Homo sapiens: one gene and its partners. The protein of the gene in region 1 purifies or fractionates together with the protein of each later gene. This does not show direct contact. Each region holds a gene or a part of one and is shown in the gene's direction. Other genes may lie near its edges.

Region 1 (4,106 bases):
TGCCGACTTTAGAGACAAGAAAGCCTTTTGGGGGTGGACATCTTAGCGGAGACCTAAGGGGTGGGAAGAGGCGGTCATCTCAGGGCCTGGGAAGAACATTGCAGGGGAACAGCCGGTGCGGAGGCCTGAAGCAGGCTGGGGCATGGCTGCTCTTGGGACCATCAGGTGGAGGGCATGGGTGAGGGAGAGTGAAGTGCAGCCCCCTCGTGGGCCGGGCGTTGGCTGTCGGGCCCTGTGGCACTGGCCGGGAGTGCAGGGAGCTGGTGAGTAGGGGTGTGGGTGACAGGCTGGGCTGACAGGATGCTCTCTTTGCCAGCAAAGGCCACCTGAGCGCTATCCTGGCCATCAAGGGGAACCTATCCAACAGTGAGGTCAAGCGCATCCGGAGCATCTTGGACGTCAGCATGGGGGCGCAGGAGCCCTCCCGGCCCCTATTTTCCCTTATAAAGGTTGGTTAGCTTTTCCTGTGGCCTGACCTGCCTGTGAGTGCCCAGCAAGCCTTGGGCACACCCCGCTGGGAGCTGTTAAGAGCAGCGCTGGTTCTCGGTTCCTCCCGGGTCTCCTGTGCTCTGATGCTACTTCTGCCTAGCCCTGGCGGAGGTGCAGGCCCTGTCAGCTGGAACTGGACAGACCTTGGTTTGTTTACATGTCCGATGGGGGCAGGAGCTCCCATCCTGGGCAGCCAACCAGGCAACACCAAGGACTCTTTGTAAACGATAGCTGATCGTGTGCACGCAAGGAAAGAACCAGGAGGGAGAGTGCAGCCAGGCTCAGGGATCCCCGGACACCTCTGTCCAGAGCCCCTCCACAGTCGGCCTCATGACTGTCCTCCTCGTGGGTGGGGCCGAGGGCCCTCTTCAGCTCTCTGGAGACAGGGGCCGAGCCTCACCCATCTGCCCTCTGCAGCCCAGGGCCGCCGTGAGCGGGATTCAGCAATGGTGGAATGGAAGACAGAACTGGAAGAGAAAGAAGGAAAAGATGAGCTCTCGTCTGGCAGGGGCTTTTAGGGTCCTGTGGCGAGCTGTGAGCACCGCCAGCATTAGACGTCACATCCAGGTGGCCCCACGGCCCCTACAGGCTGGCCCTGCAATGGGGCCCTGAGCCCTCCCTCTTCATCCCCCAAGGCCTCAACTAGAGGGTGGTCCCCCGAGGGCTTGGTGTCTACTACCGAAGGGCCCAAGACCTCCTGGGTCCTCTCAGGCTCCCCCTTCCCCAAGGCAGGGACAGGCCCTGGGGGTGCCACCGTGGGCCCTGCCACCCAGAAGTCTGGCTGAGGTCTGGGCAGGGGCAGGGCAAGCTTGACCTCTCACTGTTGACCCTTTGGCCTCTGTATTTGTTTCCTATTGCCGTGACAGGTTTCCACAAACTTCGTGGATCAAAACGAGGTCTTCCAGTTCTGCGGGTCAGAAGGCTGACCCGGGGCTCAAATCTGGGTGTCGGCAGTCCTGCACTCCTTCTGGAGGCTCTAGGGGAGAATTCATTTCTGGCCTTTTCATTTTTAGAGGCTGACCGTAATTCTTGACTTCAGGCTCCTCCATCTTCAGAGCCAGCTGTGGGTAGTTGAATCTTTTTCCCGTCACCTCATTGAGGCCTCCCCTCTCCTGCCTCCCTCCACCACTTTTTTTTTTTTTTTTTTGAGACAGGGTCTTGCTGTGTTGCCCAGGCTGGAGTGCAGTGGCCTGGTCATGGCATCAAGGCTCACTGCAGCCTGGACCTCCTGGTTCAAGTGATCCTCTTGTCTCAGTCCCCTGAGACAATCCCCCACGCCCAGCTACATATTTTTTGTGGATACAGGGTCTCATTCTGTTGCCTAGGCTTGTCTGGAACTCCTGGGCTCAAGGGATCTTGTAGCCTTAGCCTCCTAAAGTGCTGGGATTATAGGCATGAGTCACTGTACCCGGCCTGCTCTACCGCTTTTAAGGACGCTTATGATCACATTGCGCCTACCCAGAGAACCCAGGTCGTCTTTCTATTTTCAGGTCAGCTGATTAGCCACCTTAGTTCCATCTGCAACTTTAGTTCCCACTGGCTGTGTAACCTAACATAGTCACAGGCTCTGGGGACTGTCACGTGGACATCTTTGGGAGGCCGTTATTCTGCCCACCGCACCCTCCGTTCATCCCCTGCCCTGCCGGGCACCTCGCTCTACCCCAGGAAAATGTGAGCTCGTTTTCCTGCTCGGCATGTGCTCCCCCTAAGGCTCTGCTCCTCCCTGGGCCTGAAAGTTCCTTCTCAGCCTGAGAGGGGGCCCTTCGGACTCAGGCATGACTCAGCCCGGCTGATGCCTCTGCAGTGCTGAGTCAGGATTTGGGGCCGGCTCTCTTGGGTCCGTCCCCTTTTCCCAGGTACTGCCTTACAAAGCTGTGGCCAGGAAGTGGCCGGTATAAAGGATGCCCAAGGTCTTTGTACGTGTGTAGGAGTTAGCGTGTTTGATATTGTTAATATAATAATAATTATTTTTTAGAGTACTGCTTTTGTATGTATGTTGAACAGGATCCAGGTTTTTATAGCTTGATATAAAACAGAATTCAAAAGTGGCTGTGGAGTGATTTATTTTGGGAGCTGCACAATGATGGGGGGCCCAGCCAGGCAGCCTTAGCAGCTTTCTGAGCCTCTAGGGGTCCGGGCAAACCTACCTAGGTTCTGTGTCAATCCCCAGCCTGTCCCAGCCCCCAGAGCACCTCATGTGGTCCAGGCAGGAGATGGCCCACCATCCCCTCACTGTGAGCAGGAGCTTTGGAAGTGTCTGCCTGTAGGGCATGGACAGTCACTTCACCCTTCCGTGCCTCAGTTTCCTCATCTGTAAAAAGGGGACTGTGACCCTTTGGGGCTTCCTCCACCGTCCTTTACTGAGGAAGAGGGTGGGGTGGACACGGGGCAGCCATTTCAACCGCATGCACGGGACACAGAGTGGGAACTGACTCTTACCATGCTGGCATTGACCTGAAAGCTACAGCTGTGGACACAGGAGGTCTGGTTTGTATTCAGAGACGGGCTCAGCTGCCACGGAAGGGTGGGCCTCTCCGCAGCCAATCTGGCCTGGAATTTGGGAAGGAGCAGAGTCCCTGGAAGGGAAGAAGGGTACCTTGATGAACGTTGCACAGAGGCCGGGGAGGGCCCCAAGGGGAGCCGTGTGCACCTGAAGAGGGGTGTGGGCTTCAGCAGGGCCTGGGACAGCCCGGAGCTGGGGGTGGGGGAGGGCAGGCCCTTTCTCCTGAGTTCCATTCTTGGGGCCAAAGCGGATGGCATGAGGCCACCGTGCAGTGAGAGAAAGGAGGGAGACGAGGGCCAGGGGCAGTGCGGCTTGGCACGGAGACCCTCTGCCCGGCTCCTGGACCCGCCGGTCCATGTGGCTGCGAGGTCCTGGCCTGGTTGAGCCACGTGGGGAGCGTGGGCCTTGGGCGGGCGAGTTCCCGTTCCTCTCCTCGGAGCACAGGGTCAGGGGGAAGTGGGGGCAGCGCGACTCTCCCCTGCATGGCCCCCTGACCCTGGGCAAACGTGGGGAGAGATGGCGCCTGAGCCCCGATGGAAGCTGTCAGTGGGCCCTGGCACACATTCTCCCACGGGGGCGGACTTAGGTCCCAAAGTGACCCCCAGCCTCGCGGCGGCCAGGGCGGGCCGAGTCGTCGGAGCGCGGCGGGACCTGGGGCCAGGTGGACCCCCCTCCCCGGGCTGCGTCCACCCCTGGCAGAGGGGCGGGCTCCGGGCGCGAGGCCCCAGGCGAGGAGGAAGAGGGTGCGGGCGGCGCCTTGGAGGTTCCTGCTGTTCCTGCTTTTCGGGGCGGGGGCCTTCCGGGTCACTGTCCCGCCAGCTGTTGGATCTGCACCAGTAACTTCTCCAGGAAAATCCCCCGGAGAGGAGGATCTGCCCGGCGGAGGGGAGCGAGTCCCCCAGCGCGGGGACAGGGCGGGCGGAGCGGGGCCTGGGCCAGGCCTGGTGCCTTTGTGCAAGGACGGGCCCCGGGCTGCCCAGGCTCCTGTGAGCAGGGGTGGAGCGGGGAGGCCGCAGCCCCCGCGGAACACCGGGCGCCCCCGGCCTCCAGCAGTGGGAAGCAGCCCGGGGGCTGACGCTCCCTGCAGGAGCCAGGAGCAAGCAAACAAGCAGCT
Region 2 (5,366 bases), on another chromosome or scaffold:
ATAACCATTGAAGAATCGGATTAATCAAAATCTGGTTAGATTTTAAAATCGTATGACGTCGGGTACAAGAGCTCCGAGCGGCTGCACCATTGGTTCATCGCAGCAGCAGCAGCTGTCTAGTCCCAAAGCGCCCACCAGGCGCTTCTAAGACCAGGAGAGTCTTAGAACCTTGAGAGCAAATCTGATTCATGCGCACTTCCCCGGGAGCTGACTCTGGGGGGTGGGTGACCCGTAGTCTGTTCCTCTGGGCCGACTGTGGTTCTCGGGTGGCGGCAGAACCTCCGCGGCCTCTGAAAGGGGCCCCTGTGGCTGAATGGAAGGAGCATGGGGTGGGCAGGAGGCGACTTGGATTTGAATTCTGACTTTACTGCTCTGACCGCCTCTCCCCCCCACCCCAATTTTGTGTCTCTTTATAGGCTGGCTGAGCTTCCTTTCCTCATCTGTGTGGTAACAGCATGACCTTACTGGGCTGTAGCGGGGTGACACTATGTTACAGTACCAGGACTGTCTCAACAAATGCTTGTTGACCTGTTAATTTCATGCGTTATCTTTCCTATTTCCCATCGCCAAAGTCCATTTGCTGCATGTAACTCAAACGCAATGGAGCTTCAAAGGGTGATTGGGGAACCTCCCCGTAGTCGGTACTGTCCTGAATGTTCCTTTTCCAGGAAAGGTGGGGCTCTTTCCTGCGTCGCCAGGACTCAAGCTAGCACCTAGGTTTTGAATGTTTAAAAGTTGATTCTTAAGAAATACAGTAGCCGCACGTTTGGCCTGGTTTCAGAGGAGTCCTTACGCAAATACACTTCCCTCTCCTAGGAGCCAGGCTGGGCTCGCCGCCCCTGCTCCCCCGCTTTCCCAGGCTCGCCTCCTCCTCTTCCTGCCCACCTCTATGCCCCGCACCTACCCAGTCCCCACTCTGGCAAACCCCGGAGCGCCACCGCGCCCATTGGCGGGTTTGCTTTTATTGGTTTGTTCTGCGCTCCCTCCCGCCTTCTGGCGCGGGCACTGGATGCTAGCCGTTTTGCTCCAGGAGATATAAGAAGCCCAGGTTTTCCCCCTTCCTGGGAGCGCTGCGGATCATTCGCAGGCGGCCCGGCACCCTCGCATAGGTGGGCCGGCCCCTGGGGCTCCAGCCGTGCGACCCCGGAACCACACGTGTGGCGAGGAACGGGTCCCGGGGCGGAGTAGGCAGAGTCCCAAGCGCATCCTTCAGCCACACCTCCTCGGCTCTAGGGGGCGGTGAGCAAAGGCGGTCACCCCTGCAACCTCGCCCGCTACCCCCACGCACTCCTCCGTGTTCACATGGTAGGAACTCCCACAGGCAAAAGCCTTTCCGATGCGCTCTGCAGCCGCGGGATCACTCGGGTGTTTGAACGCTCGCGCGCTCCTCCCATTGGAGCTCCGGCTAAGGCGGGGCCCAGGTGCTTGCTTCCTCCGAGCTTGCTTAAGGTTTTCATGTTGCAAGTACTAGATGTTGAACCCAGGTGGCTTCTTACTGTTCTGGAGGAGAAGGCTGCTAGGACTGGTTTTTTTTCTTCGTCCTCCTTCCCTCCTACAAAAAGAATGGGCGGTGTTTCGGGAAAAAGTCCGCCTTAGGATACTTTAGTGTGTTTACTGCTGCCCCATGGTCACATGCACGGCTGTTTATAAATTGCATCTTTATTGAGGAAGAAGGTAAAAAACCTAGAGAGGGCAAGGAACTATTTATTTTGTATATGTGATTATTTGGACCGTTCAAATTTTCCTTTAAAAAACAAGAATTATAATTCAAAGAAAATGCTATTCTGACTACTGCCAGAAACTTAAGGTGTTTAAGCAAAATTCAAAAGTAAAACCAGAGTTTATTTTGTTGGAATGAATGTAACATAAACATAACTTTATCATTTTCAATTAGAAACTCTGGTCTGTTATCATTTTGGCTGGTGGTTCTGTAATGTACGTCTAAGGGGAAAAACACCAGATTCTCATATGTTCCCTCCTCATCCCTTTTATTTTTCAGTCCAGAGCACAACCTCCAGAAGACAACAGAAGGAAGCCAGTTTTGGGGAAACTTGGCACTCTATTCACTGCAGGAAGGAGAAGAAACAGTAGAAACGGGTTAGAGAGTCCCACCAGATCAAATGCCAAACCACTCTCTCCCAAAGATGTGGTAGCCTCTCCTAAGCTCCCAGAGAGAGAGAGTGAGAGGAGCAGATCTCAGAGCAGCCAACTGAAGCAAACGGACACAAGCGAGGAGGGCTCCCCGCGGGAGAATCCCCGAGAGGCAGAGGGCGAGCTCCCCGAGAGCGGTGGCCCCGCAGCCCCCCCTGACGCCGAGCTGTCACCTCGCTGGAGCAGCAGTGCAGCGGCTGTGGCTGTGCAGCAGTGCCATGAAAATGATTCACCCCAATTAGAACCTCTGGAGGCAGAGGGAGAGCCTTTCCCAGATGCCACCACCACTGCCAAGCAGCTGCATTCCTCGCCGGGAAATTCCTCCAGGCAAGAGAACGCAGAGACGCCCGCCCGCAGTCCGGGGGAGGACGCTTCACCAGGTGCTGGCCACGAACAGGAGGCTTTCCTGGGTGTGAGGGGTGCGCCAGGGTCGCCCACCCAGGAGCGGCCCGCGGGAGGACTAGGCGAGGCCCCTAACGGAGCCCCCAGTGTGTGTGCCGAAGAAGGCTCCCTGGGGCCCCGCAACGCCCGCAGCCAGCCCCCCAAGGGCGCGTCTGATTTGCCAGGTGAGCCTCCGGCCGAGGGCGCAGCGCACACGGCCAGCTCCGCGCAGGCAGACTGCACAGCCCGCCCCAAGGGTCACGCCCACCCTGCTAAGGTGCTAACTTTGGACATCTACTTGAGTAAGACTGAGGGGGCACAAGTGGACGAGCCGGTCGTGATTACTCCCAGAGCGGAAGATTGCGGTGACTGGGACGACATGGAGAAGAGGTCCAGCGGCCGTAGGTCGGGGAGGCGGAGGGGGTCGCAGAAATCCACCGACTCCCCCGGCGCGGACGCCGAGCTCCCTGAGAGCGCTGCCAGGGACGACGCGGTGTTCGACGACGAGGTGGCGCCAAACGCGGCCAGCGATAACGCCTCGGCGGAAAAGAAAGTGAAATCTCCGCGGGCAGCCCTCGACGGGGGCGTTGCCTCCGCTGCGAGCCCAGAGTCCAAGCCCAGCCCCGGTACCAAAGGGCAGCTCCGAGGGGAGTCGGACCGGAGCAAACAGCCACCCCCGGCTTCGTCCCCCACGAAGAGGAAGGGCAGGAGCCGTGCCCTCGAGGCCGTGCCCGCCCCGCCCGCCAGCGGCCCCCGGGCTCCCGCCAAGGAGTCCCCACCCAAGAGGGTGCCCGATCCCAGCCCAGTCACCAAGGGCACTGCGGCCGAGAGCGGGGAGGAGGCGGCGCGGGCCATCCCCCGCGAGCTCCCGGTCAAGAGCAGCTCGCTGCTGCCGGAGATCAAGCCCGAGCACAAGAGGGGCCCGCTCCCCAACCACTTCAACGGCCGGGCAGAGGGAGGTCGAAGCAGAGAGCTGGGCAGAGCGGCCGGAGCGCCTGGAGCTTCTGACGCCGACGGCTTGAAGCCCAGGAACCATTTCGGCGTGGGCAGGTCGACAGTGACCACTAAAGTGACCCTGTAAGTAGCCGCGCAAGTCCCGGCCGAGTTGCTGTCCGCACACGTGCTGGGGGTCCGCTCTGAGAGGCTCGGGGTATCTGCATTGTGGAAGAAACGTCTGGTCACTGAACTTTCCCCTCCATGCTGAACTTAAGATAGTGAAGGGCCAGTTTACACAGTCAAGATTTAAGATGACACCTGTGGCAGCCTCCTCAGTTAATTCCCTTTTTAACACAAGATTTAAGTTTAACGAATGTAAAAATAGGATATCCGTTGAAGCTCAACGTTTATGTAGATGAGAGATAAGACCTCATGGCCTGACATGAGCTGATTCTATTCTTTATTCAAAATGTACAAGGGTGTTCCAAGGTGGGATGTTCTTAAAATGCATGTGCTGTGAATTTCAAAATATGGAGCAAACAGTAACATGTTAAATACGATCCAGTAGCTTTGACATGTGTGAGTTTTAAGAGAATTTGCAGAACCTTTTATGGCACTCAGTGCATTTATTGGCAAAAAGCTTAAAAACACACAAGAAAAGTTCCTAATACAAGTATCTTGGTTGCTTCTTCCCCTTTATAATGTTAGGGAGTCTGGTGATACTTTTGGACCCAGGCTGAAAAGTAGTTTTCAGTTACTGAAATAAAGATCAGTGTTCTTACTGGAAGATTATTTGCTACATGAAAGCAGCTGTGACAGGTGTGAGTTTAAGATAATTCCAAAACATTTTATGGAACTTAGTGCATTATTGGCCTAAGCCTTTTTCAAAAAGTCCCTAATTTATGTATCTTGGTTGCTTCTTCCTCCTTGTGCTGCATGAAAGCACAAAACAACTGTGACTACTTGCTGTTAAGTTTATTCATTTCACAAGTAATTTATTTAATACTTTCTGTGCAAGATATTGTGCTAGTCACTGTGGGGGAAAAAAACCCTACAACTGTGACTCAGGATATTGCCCTGAAATTTTTATAGCCCCATCTGGCACACAAAAAGCACACAAATCAAATAACAATACAAGATGATATCTGATGAAACTGCCAAACGAATGTTACCATCTGTAAATCCTGGGGAAGTGCTAGCGAGCAAGAAATCACTGCTGGTGCTTTGGGGGAGCTGGGCCTTGTGCCTTGATGATAAATGCAATTTGTATAGGTGGACAGGATAGGGAAGGTACTCTATGAAACTGATAAGACCCTCCCTTCTCACACTTCTGCTCCCTCACCACTCCCACTTAGCACAGGTGAATAATGATTAAGTGCTTAAGTTTTTCCTCCATTCACATATTTGTTCAAGGAGTGGGTATTTTAACAACATTATCATTATAATTCTTGAACCTAATGGTTTCTTTCATTCTATTTGATTTCTTGGATAAGTAAGCTTAAGAGGAGGAGAGTTCTGATTGGGAGAACTCTGAGAACTCTGAGAGGGAAGTATGCGTAATGAATAACTTGACTACCTCACCAACTGCCAACCTGGAGACCTTTGATATAGTCAGTGATTTATTCTGTGATGGTAGGTAGCATCAGAGAAATGAGCTGGGTGAATGATGCCTATTATTTATAGAAGACCAGTGTGATTGAATGCTAAAGCCTCCTAAATGTGAGCCTTAGAGAAACATTGCTGTGTACCTTATGAAGGATGGTTCACCTGTCTTCCAATTAGAAGACACCAGTAGAAAAACCAGAAATGTTACACTGTGAAATAGTAGGCTAAACAAACAGGAAAGATGATCTTATAATGAAATTCTTCGTTTGCTGTTCTCTGTAATAGAACTAAAC
Region 3 (5,366 bases), on another chromosome or scaffold:
ACTCAGGGAGGACTGTCCTTTCATGGTGTGGAGTTGTGGAGAGAACCCTGAGTTTGAGTTCTGCTCTGTTGTATGACCTTGGGTAAGTCCTGCCCCTCTTTGGACCAGACATGCCCTGTCTTGACAAAGATGGTTTTTTTTTTGTTTTGTTTTGTTTTTTGAGACAGAGTCTCACTCTGTCGCCCAGGCTGGCGTGCAGTGGCGAGATCTCAGGTCACTGCAACCTCTGCCTCCCAGGTTCAAGCGATTCTTCTGCTTCAGCCTGGGACTACAGGTGAGTGCCACCGTGCCTGGCTAATTTTTGTATTTTTAGTAGAGATGGGGTTTCACCATATTGGCCAGGCTGGTCTCGAACTCCTGACCTCATGATCCGCCCGCCTTGGCATCCCAAAGTGCTGGGATTACAGGCGTGAGCTACCGCGACTGGCCGACAAAGATGGGGTTTAATGGCCTCTGAGACTCTTGCTAGTTCTAGGATTCTGTGAGTTTGAGAATGGGCTGAGGGAGCAAGCCTGTAGGGGCTGGGGGCTAGGCATGGAGATGGGAGCTGTGTCCAGGAAAGGAGAGCTGACCTCCAGCCAGCCAGATAAGACACTGAGACCCAGTGGCCTGGATGTCATAGGAAGGGGAGTAAGGTGGCTGGGCGTGGTGGCTCACACCTGTAATCCCAGCACTTTGGGAGGCTGAGACAGGTGGATCACTTGAGGTCAGGAGTTCAAAACCAGCCTGGCCAACATGGTGAAACCCCGTCTCTACTAAAAATACAAAAATCAAAAATTATGGCCGGACACAGTGGCTCACGCCTGTAATCCCAGTGCTTTCGGGGGCCAAGGCGGGAGGGGATCACCTGAGGTCAGGAGTTTGAGACTAGCCTGGCCAACATGGCGAAACCCCATCTCTACTAAAAATGCAAAAATTAGCTGGGCATGGTGGCATGCATCTGTAATCCCAGGCTACTCGGGAGGCTGAGGCAGGAGAATAGCTTGAACCCAGGAGGCAGAGGTTGCAGTGAGCTGTGATCACGCCATTGCACTTCAGCCTGGGCAACAAGAACAAAAAGCTCCGTCTCAAAACAAAAAACAAAAATTAGCCAGGCGTAGTGGCAGGCGCCTGTAGTCCCAGGTACTTGGGAGGCTGAGGCAGGAGAATCACTTGAACCCAGGAGGCGGAGGCTGCAGTGAACTGAGACCACGCCACTGTACTCCAGCCTGGGCGACGGGAGTTCAACTGGGCAACAGTTTCATTCAAAACTCAAAAAAAAAGGAAGGTGGGTAAGGAGAGTCCATTATGAACAATGTCATTTCTCTCTGCTGAGGAAGGGGCCTAGATAGTTCCAAAGCAGTCAGAGTCAAGTCTCTGGGGTCGTGGGCGCCTTGCCCTTCTGAGGTCAGGATGGTGTCTGTTTGCCCGTCAGTCAACACTCCCATGTGTTTTCCCCTTCTGTGTCAGTTCCTGTGCTGCTTCTCCTGCCTGGAATGTGCTCCCCTTCACTTTGCTATCCAGTGAACTCCTATTCAGCCCTCAGGGCCTGGTGTCAGTGTCATCTCTGTGATACTCCCAGGGGAAATTATTGTCCCCAGACCCTAGAGCAAGGTGCTTAAGAGAGTTGGGGTTGGGCAGTATATGCTTTTCCAGCCACTTTCTTCTTGGGTAAAGGGCACCTCAGTGTCCTTACCTGGGGCCTGGACCAATGTAATAGGGGCGGAGTTCCCTCTGCTATGGGATACCTCCAATAGGGGAGTGGTTTCCCAGAGGAGTTTGGGGTTTCTCAATAAGAATGTGACATTTTGGCTTCCCAGAAATGTAAAAAATAAAGAGTGTGACAGGGTGGCTGCTCTGTCTCCCCCAGACCCCTGTGAGAGGATAGACATTGTTTTCCTAGGGTCCAGACGGGAGAGGGAGCCTCACTCACTTATTTCACAGATATTTCCTAAGTGTTATATACCAGGCACTATCCTCGGGATGAATAAGAGAGACAAAGTCCTGGGCCTCATGAACCTCACGATGAGTGTGTGTATAGGGGGGAAAATACGCTGAACAAGTAATTAAGGGTTAACAAGTGTGACAAGGGGAAGCACAGCAATCTCTGAGGGAGGTCAGGGATGGCTTCCCCAGGGAGGTGGCGCTTGAGCTGAAATGGAAGGATGAAAGGAAGCTGGGATTGAAGGGTTTGTGGCACTGGCCTCAGGCAAAGCACGTGCTAGGGACTTGGGACCAGCTGGCTATCTGGGGTTCCGTGGGATCCAGGGATTGCTGTACCTCACTATTTTGAATACCCGAAGGGCAGAGACTGGGTTGACAGACTCTTCCCTCTGCCCTGGCCAGCACAAGGCCTGGCTAAGTGGCCTTGGATGATAGGTAATGCTCCAGTATGGGCCCCCAGAGATGGGCATCTCCGGATCCTAGACTCTCAGAGCTCATGGCCCGAGATGTCATAGGGAGCCCTCATGGTACATACAGATGGGGCAGCTGAGGCCCGGAGGAGGAAGTGACTTGCTCAAGTTCACATGGCCATCTAGTGTCAGAGGCAGAAGAAAAGCCCACAACTGCCAGGCCTTCAGCTTCTTCACTCCTTTCTTCAGACTTCAAATGGAAAATCGCATCCCAGAGAGGTGCCTCTGCTAGGGGTGTGAAGAGCTGAGAAGGAAGCAAGGCCAAGGGAGTCTTCCCTGCCCTCCCCTCAACACCTTCAGGGGCTCCTTCCAGCTCTCTCTCCCTCACCCTTCTCTTGGAAATTCCCCTTGGGCCTGAAAGGGGCTCTCAATCAGTGTGCTCTCCCCATACTGTACCCTCCCTGCAGTCCCTGAAGCAGGGCTCCTAGCAAGGGTTGAACTGTGGTGGCCAAGCCCTGTGACCCCAAAAATCTGCATTCTCTTGTCAGCAGAGGGCAGAGTGAGAGCCTCCCCTCAGCACTTGCTCCTTGGAAATCCCTCTCTCTCCAGACCCTCAAAGCTGTCTCAGCTGCTCATGGCCTGTCACATGCTAAAGAAAACGAATAAGAGGAAGCATTGTATGTTATTTGGGCCACAGTGAACATGGTGGGGTTGGAGGAGCAGGGACACACACCTTCCTTGTGCGGACCCAAAGGCCACCTCTAGCCCGTTGGCAGACTTGGGGAAGTCAGCCAAGTCCCTGCAGCTTCCTTGGTTAGGAGGAGTGAAATCTCTGTCCGCCTCCCCCATCGTTAGTTATACCCCACTGTACTCTATGCCCTTGTACTCCACTGTCCTGAGGGGCTGATTCATTAAAAGACTGTCAGCCCACTCACAGGGTGCCCATCTCTGTGCTTGGCATGGAAGGGGCGATAGAGACAGCTCAGCTCACAGAGGATTTAAACCCTGAATCTTGTAGCAAAGTGCGTGATTCCCAGGAGGCTCCTGGTAGGGAGATTACTAAGTGAGGCCTCCTGTCTGCTTAGGACACCCCCTCCTCCAAGTCTAGCCAAGTGAGGTCTTCCCCACCATTTTCATTTTTATTTTTTGAGACAGAGTTTCGCTCTTGTTTCCCAGGCTGGAGTGCAGTGGTGCGATCTCTGCTCACCGCAACCTCCACCTCCTGGGTTCAAGTGATTCTCCTGCCTCAGCCTCCCGAGTAGCTGGGATTATAGGCGCCTGCCACCATGCCCAGCAAATTTTTGTATTTTTAGTAGAGACGGGGTTTCACCATGTTGGCCAGGCTGGTCTTAAACTGCTGACCTTGTGATCTGCCCGCCTCAGCCTTCCAAAGTGCTGGGATTACAGGCATGAGCCACAGCGCCCGGCCCCTTTTATTTATTTATTTATTTTTTTGAGACAGTCTCGCTGTGTCACCCAGGCTGGAGTGCAGTGGTGTGATCTCAGCTCACTGCAACCTCTGACTCCCAGGTTCAAGCGAATCTCCTGCCTCAGCCTCCCAAGTAGCCGGGACTACAGGTGCCCGCCACCATGCCTGGCTAATTTTGTATTTTTAGTAGACACGGGGTTTCACCGTGTTGGTCAGGCTGGTCTTGAACTCCCGACCTCAGGTGATCTGCCCGCCTCTACCTCCCAAAGTGCTGGGATTACAGGCATGAGCCACCGTGCCTGGCCTTCCCCACCATTTTCTAAGAGGGTCACGAGGCATTCCAGCTCATTCTTGTGGTTCCTGGAGTTCTGGTCCATATGCCTTCCATACCACCTACTTCTTCCCACCAGTCCTAGCCTAGCCTGTCCTGTGTTCTTGGCAGTGGGCAGTACTCCTCCCACAGGATCCTGGAGCAAGCACTGCCTTTGCAGTGAAAGTATTTATGCGCTATCATCACTACCTCCGTCAGTATGCAAGCGTCACCGTTGCTACTACAGCTAATCTACAAGCCCCACCATCTCCACCTCCACCAGTTTCTATTAAACACATAGGTACACCTACTATGTGCTGAGCCTGGGGTTACTCAAAGGAGTCAGACAATCACTGCTCTTCAGGAAACTGTTCTGGTTGGAAAGGCAGACACTAAAACTATTGTCTGAAGGCAAGTTCTGGGATGGTGAACACGGGGTGCAGGGGAGCCCTGGGGTGTGATCAGTACTATATCAGAAGGCAGCACTAATGTCTGTGGGGCCTTCATTAAGGAAGCACTGAGCTGGGGGAAGAGGGGGTGCAAGGAAGACTTCATGGAGGAGCAGCATGTAGAGCAGGGCATTGAGAATGAAAAGGCACCTTTCAGGCCAAGGTGGAAGAGGGGATGGCAGGTGTGAACGCCTGGAGTTGTGTGCTGGAGGGTGGCAAGCAGTTTTGTGTGGTTGTAGCTCTGAGAAGAAGATTCTCATCTCAGAGATGAGGTCGGAGATGAGGCTGAACTGGTGGGCAGGGGCAGCTCCTCCAACGCTTCTTGTGAAGGCCAAGGAACCTGCCACACTTCAGAAATCCTTTGAGCCTCTTCACATACCTGTCCTCACTTAATTCATGCCAAGAAATTTAGACTTTATCCTTGGGTATTCCCTCTACTCCCCCATACTAACTGTTCTTTTTATGGGCCCCAGTTTCCCTATCTATATAAATTCAGGGAATTGGCTAGCTGATCTCCGAGGTCTTTTTCAGCTTTGACACTAGGACCATTTTCTCTGTGCAAAGTGTACACGCAGCTTGGTACACAGTGTATGCTCAATGAATATTTTCTATGGGTGAATAACTTGCCAGCCTTTCAAGGACTGCACTGTTGTCAACCTGAGACTCTAGCAAGAGAAGGGCCTCAGAGAGAGTTGGGTTTAGCTTTGACTCTCACATTTTGCAGGGAGGGAAGAGGGTTTGCTGGAGCCATCGGGCATAAGAGGTAGCACGGTATAGTGGAGGGGCTTGTTCTGGTGGCAGGAAGGATAAGCCATGTGGGGTCTAGAACTGAGGGCTCTAGACTT
Region 4 (5,366 bases), on another chromosome or scaffold:
TAGCTGGGATTACAGGCATGCACCACCACGCCTGGCTAATTTTGTATTTTTAGTAGAGATGGGGTTTCTCCATGTTGGTCAGGCTGGTCTCGAACTCCTGACCTCAGGTGATCCGCCCCCCTGGGCCTCTGAAAGTGCTGGGATTACAGGCGTGAGCCACCGCGCCCAGCCTGTTCAGTGGAATTTAAACTTGTACATATAGAAGTGAGAATTGAATTCATTCAGAGATTCAGCTGCCTTATAGTTTCTAGTCCTTAAACTTCTAAGCTGTTCAATGTGTAACTAGATTGCATTTTAAGGATAACCTGCAAGATGTGTAATGCAGTTATGCACCACATAATGACATTTTGGTCAGCAATGGATTGCACAGATGACGGTGGTCCCCTAAGATTGTAATGGAGCTGAAAAATTCTTCTGTCTATTGATGTCACAGGTGTTGTAATGTTATAGTGCAAGGCACTACTCACATGTTTGTGCTGCTGCTGGTGTAAACAAACCTACTTCACTGCCAGTTGTCTACAAGTAAAAGCACATACAATTATGTACAATATGTAACTCTTGATAATAAATGATGTTGTTACTGGTTTATGTATTTATTATACTATACTTTTTTTTTTTTGAGACTCAGTCTTGCACTGTTGCCCAGGCTGGAGTGCAGTGGCGTGATCTCGGCTCACTGCAAGCTCCGCCTCCTGGGTTCATGCCATTCTCCTGCCTCAGCCTCCCGAGTAGCTGGGACTACAGCTGCCCGCCACCACGCCCGGCTAATTTTTTGTACTTTTAGTAGAGGTGGGGTTTCATCGTGTTAGCCAGGATGGTCTCGATCTCCTGACCTTGTGATCTGCCCGCCTCAGCCTCCCAAAGTGCTGGGATTATAGGCGTGAGCCACCACGCCCGGCCTATACTGTACTTTTTATCTTTATTTTAGCGTGTATGCCTACATGTTAAAAAAGTTAATAGTAAAACAGCCTCGGGCAGGTCCTTAAGGGGGTATTTCAGAAGGCATTGTTATCTTAGGAGAAGACAGCCCCATGTGTATTATTACCCCTGAAGACTTTCCAGTGGGACAAGACATGGAGATAGAAGACAGTGAAATTGATGCTCCTGACCCTGTGTAGGCCTAGGCTAATATGTTTGTATCTTAGTTTTTAACAAAAAGTTTAAAAAGTAAAAATAAAAAAAATTAAAATTTTAAAAATAGAGAAAAGCTTATAGAATAAGGTTATAAAGAAAATATTTTTGTACAGCTATACAAAGTATTGTGTTTTAAGCTAAGTGTTATTACAAAAGAGCCAAAAAACAGCCGGGCCCAGTGGCTCACGCCTGTAATCTTGGCACTTTGGGAGGCCAAGGCTGGTGGATTGCTTGAGCTTAGGAGTTCAATACCAGCCTGGGCGACATGACGAAACCCCTTCTCAACAAAAAAATTAAAAAATTAGCCAGCCATGGTGACACACACCTGTAGTCCCAGCTTCTCAGGAGGCTGAGGTGGGAGAATCATCTGAGCCCGGGAAGGTCAAGGCTGCCCTGAGCCATGATTGCTCCAGTGAACTCCAGCCTGGGAGACAGACCAAGACCCTGCCTCAAAAACAAAACAAAAGTGTCAAAAATGTTTTTAAAATTGTAAAGTTTATAAAGCAAAAAGTTACAGTAAGCAAAGGTTAATTTATTATTGAAGAAAGAAAAAATTACCTATAAAGTATACCGTAATGTAATGTCCTAGGCCTTCACATTCACTAACAACTCACTCACTGACTCACCCAGAGCTACTTCCAGGCCTGCAAGCCCCATTCATGGTAAGGGCGCTAGACAAGTACACTATTTTTTATCTTTTATGCTATTCTTACTGTACCTTTTCTATTCTTACTAAGTTTACACATACAAATACCATTGTGTTACAGTTACCTACAGTACAATAACACGCTGTAGCATCTAGGTTTGGGTAAATGCACTCACTCTATGATGTTTGCACAATGACAAAATCACCTAGTGATGCATTTCTCAGAATGTATCCCTTTTATTAGATGATGCATGACTATATTTCTAAAATCAAGTTCCCAAATAGAGTAAAAACTAAAGTGAATTTGTTTCATTAAACATTTTAAATATATGTGTGTGTATATACATATAGGTATACACGTGTGTACAATAGATACACATATATCATTTAAGTTATACAATTGGTTTTCTGAATATTTGAAATCCAAACAACTAATCCATGTTCCTTTTACCTTGAAATTCTAACTGGTATGAATGCCATGAAATAATACATTCCATGTTATTGTTTGTTGGAGGAGGATTTTCTCTTTTCTATGAGGTGAAGATAAATAATAGTGCTTACCTCCTAGGATTGTCTTAAAGCCTGATCTAATAACATAGTAAATGGCCAAGCACAGTGTGGTATGTAGCAAATCCTCAATATATCTTGCCTATTGTTATTTCTAGTGTGAATCTTTTTTTTTTTTTTTTTGAGACAGAGTCTTGCTCTGTCGCCTAGGCTCGAGTGCAGTGGCGAGATCTCGGCTCACTGCAACCTCTGCCTCCTGGGTTCAAGGGATTCTCCTGCCTCAGTTCCCCGAGTAGCTGAGGTTACAGGCATGCACCACCACGCCCTGCTAATTTTTGTATTTTTAGTAAAGACGAGGTTTCACCGTCTTGGCCAGGCTGGTTCCAAACTCCTGACCTCAGGTGATCCGACCACCTCAGCTTCCCAAAGTGCTGGGATTACTGTCATGATCCACCGTGCCTGGCCTCTAGTGTGAATATTAATCAGGAATTATAGACATGGAAACAGTTAATGTAGGCCAAGGTTATTGGGGAAAGAAGTTCCTATACATTTATTACACTTACAAGTGGTCTTTTTTATTTATTTTGAGGCAGAGTCTCCCTCTGTCACCCAGGTCAGAGTCCGGTGGTGTGATCCCGGCTCAATGCAGCCTCCTCTGCCTCCTAGCTGCAAACGATTCCCCTGCCTCAGCTTCCCGAGTAGCTGGAATTACAGGCATGCACCACCGTCCCTGGCTAATTTGTGTATTTTTAGTAGAGACGTGGGTTTGCCATGTTGGCCAGGCTGGTCTCGAACTCCTGGCCTCAAGTTACCTGCCTGCCTTGGCCTCCCAAAGTGCTGGGATTACAGGCATGAGCCACTGTGCCCAGCCACAAGTGGTCTTTGAAAATAAAAATGTGAAAGTGTTTGATTTTTAAAATGTGTGAATTTTCAATAAACCTGAAAGATTTTTTTTGAGACACATACATACAAGTATATATGCCAGAGATATATCTCAGGTAGTTGAATCTGGAACTATAGCTGTCCTTTCCTCATTGCTTTCAAGTTGAAAATGAAGAACCCATTTAAAAGATCAGAAGCACTATCCTTATAAAACAACTGATGAATTAGAAACACATTTGCCTTGTTTCATTCTAGCAGATAATGTTTGCAAAATGTGGCCTCTTTAGACCTTGAAACTGAAACTAATGGATACAGAGCAGAGCTGTGGATCCTCACATCGCTGGGGGATGTCAGTAAGTGGTCAGTGGTTGTTAGGTTGACTCACTTTAGTAATGTGCCATTGACTGAGAAAACCATCCCTGAGAATATGGAAAATGTCATAATGCTATGCTAATTATGAGGGTAGAGAGAAGAGATCACTGGTTTTGGAACTGGAAGACCTGGTTTCTGGCCCAGCGATGCAGCTCTCATGTCCCCCAGTGATGCTATCCTCAGTTCAGGGATCTCATCATATACAGTTGGGGGTTCCTCGCAGCACCAGCACAGGGATGGTGTGAAGAACCCTCTGTGGATGCTCAATTGTACACCTAAAGTCATCTCTTATCCCAGCAGTGGTCCACATGATACACTGAGGGAAAAATACACTAATGGATTTTTTAATCCATGAATTAATTTCTATACACTAATGGATTTTTTAAATTTTTATAATTTTTATATAAATATTTTAATGGGTATTAAAGATATATGTGGTAGATCAAACACATGATTTTATGCATATTCTGTAGGTCACTATTATTTTGAAATACATTTAAGCTAGCAATAGCTATTAGCATACTATGCAGATAACGACAAAAACTATGTAGGACATATGTGAGTAACCAGTGTTTAGAAGCCATAGACTAGAGGGTTGCCAGGCCCCTTCCTTTTGTGAAATTCTTTACCTCATTTTCTCAATTTGTTGATAATTTAATAGGAGCCCCCTCCCATATTTTTTTTTTGCCGTGGAAAAATGGAAATATAACCTGTTGGTCTTTCCATTTGAAACACAGAAATAATTCTTAGCCTTTCTACCTTACTAGAATATGATGAGTTAATGAACTTTAGTTTTCTTAGGGCTAAATGAGGACTACTGGAGGTAAATTGCATTGATACAATTCTGTGTAAGAAGTGCTCATGGGAAGAAGTGATACAGGTTGAGTCTCCCTTATTCGAAATGCTTGGGACAAGAAGTGTTCCCAGTTTCTTGTTTTGGAATACAGTCATGTGTCATTTAACTTGGGGATGTGTACTAAGAAGTGTGTCACTAGGTGATTTTGTGCAAACATCATAGAGTGTGTACTTACACAAACGTAGATGGTATAGCCTACTACACACATAGGCTGTATATTATAGTATAGCCAACTGTTTATAGCATGTTACTGTACTGCATACTGTAGGCAATTGTAACACAATGGTAAATAGTTGTCTATCTAAACAGAAAAAGTACAGTAAAAATACAGTATAAAAGACAAAAAAATGGTACGACTGTATAGGCCAGCTCCATCATAATCTTATAGGACCCCCATCGTATATGACTGACAGTGAATTAGGTATGTTTACATCAGTCACCACAAACATGAGTAGTGTATTGCCCTACATTAGGAGAGCTATGACGTCACTAAGCCATAGGAATTTTTCCGCGCTTATGGGACCACCATCATATATGTGGTTCATTGTTCACTGAAACGTTGTTAGGTAGCCCATAGACTGTACTTGCATTATACTTAATGTTTCAGTCTTAATCTGAAATGTTCCAGCAAGCATTTCCTTTAAGCATCATGTCAGTGCTTTAAACATTTCAGAGTTTGGAGGTTTCAGATTTTCGGATTAGGTTAGGGATGCGCAGCCTGTACTCGTCAAGATCAGTATCCATTAAAATACAAAAGCAAGTGTTATTGTAATCATGAGCTGTTTTGTGTATACTTTAATTTGTTTTATTCTTTTCTCCTAGGTTCCTGGTACAGTTCAGACAGGACAAAGTATGTGTGAAGTTTATTCAGGGAAACCAGAAAAATGGGAGTGTCCCAACATGTAAACGAAAAAACAACCGTCTCCTTGAAGTTGCTGTCCCTTAACTGGCGCCTCCTCTCTACTTTCA

The links. The genes of interacting proteins can lie anywhere in the genome.
Region 2: the proteins of TNFAIP2 (region 1) and CRYBG1 purify together in Homo sapiens (affinity purification with mass spectrometry, with the first as the bait; one large-scale study listed by BioGRID). This does not show direct contact.
Region 3: the proteins of TNFAIP2 (region 1) and NHSL3 purify together in Homo sapiens (affinity purification with mass spectrometry, with the first as the bait; one large-scale study listed by BioGRID). This does not show direct contact.
Region 4: the proteins of TNFAIP2 (region 1) and MYO1B purify together in Homo sapiens (affinity purification with mass spectrometry, with the first as the bait; one large-scale study listed by BioGRID). This does not show direct contact.

What each region holds. Positions count from the first base shown.
Region 1 is NC_000014.9:103,134,903-103,139,008, forward strand, and holds the end of TNFAIP2 (tumor necrosis factor alpha-induced protein 2), read left to right. Parts: intron 1-316; coding exon 317-458; 3' UTR 459-906; coding exon of another isoform or gene 907-1,101; 3' UTR 1,102-2,537; downstream 2,538-4,106. UniProt on the Homo sapiens protein: May play a role as a mediator of inflammation and angiogenesis.
Region 2 is NC_000006.12:106,509,431-106,514,796, forward strand, and holds part of CRYBG1 (beta/gamma crystallin domain-containing protein 1), read left to right. Parts: intron 1-1,999; coding exon 2,000-3,609; intron 3,610-5,366. UniProt on the Homo sapiens protein: May function as suppressor of malignant melanoma. It may exert its effects through interactions with the cytoskeleton.
Region 3 is NC_000001.11:32,747,044-32,752,409, forward strand, and holds part of NHSL3 (NHS-like protein 3), read left to right. Parts: intron 1-5,366. UniProt on the Homo sapiens protein: Able to directly activate the TNF-NFkappaB signaling pathway.
Region 4 is NC_000002.12:191,418,618-191,423,983, forward strand, and holds part of MYO1B (unconventional myosin-Ib), read left to right. Parts: intron 1-5,219; coding exon 5,220-5,343; 3' UTR 5,344-5,366. UniProt on the Homo sapiens protein: Motor protein that may participate in process critical to neuronal development and function such as cell migration, neurite outgrowth and vesicular transport.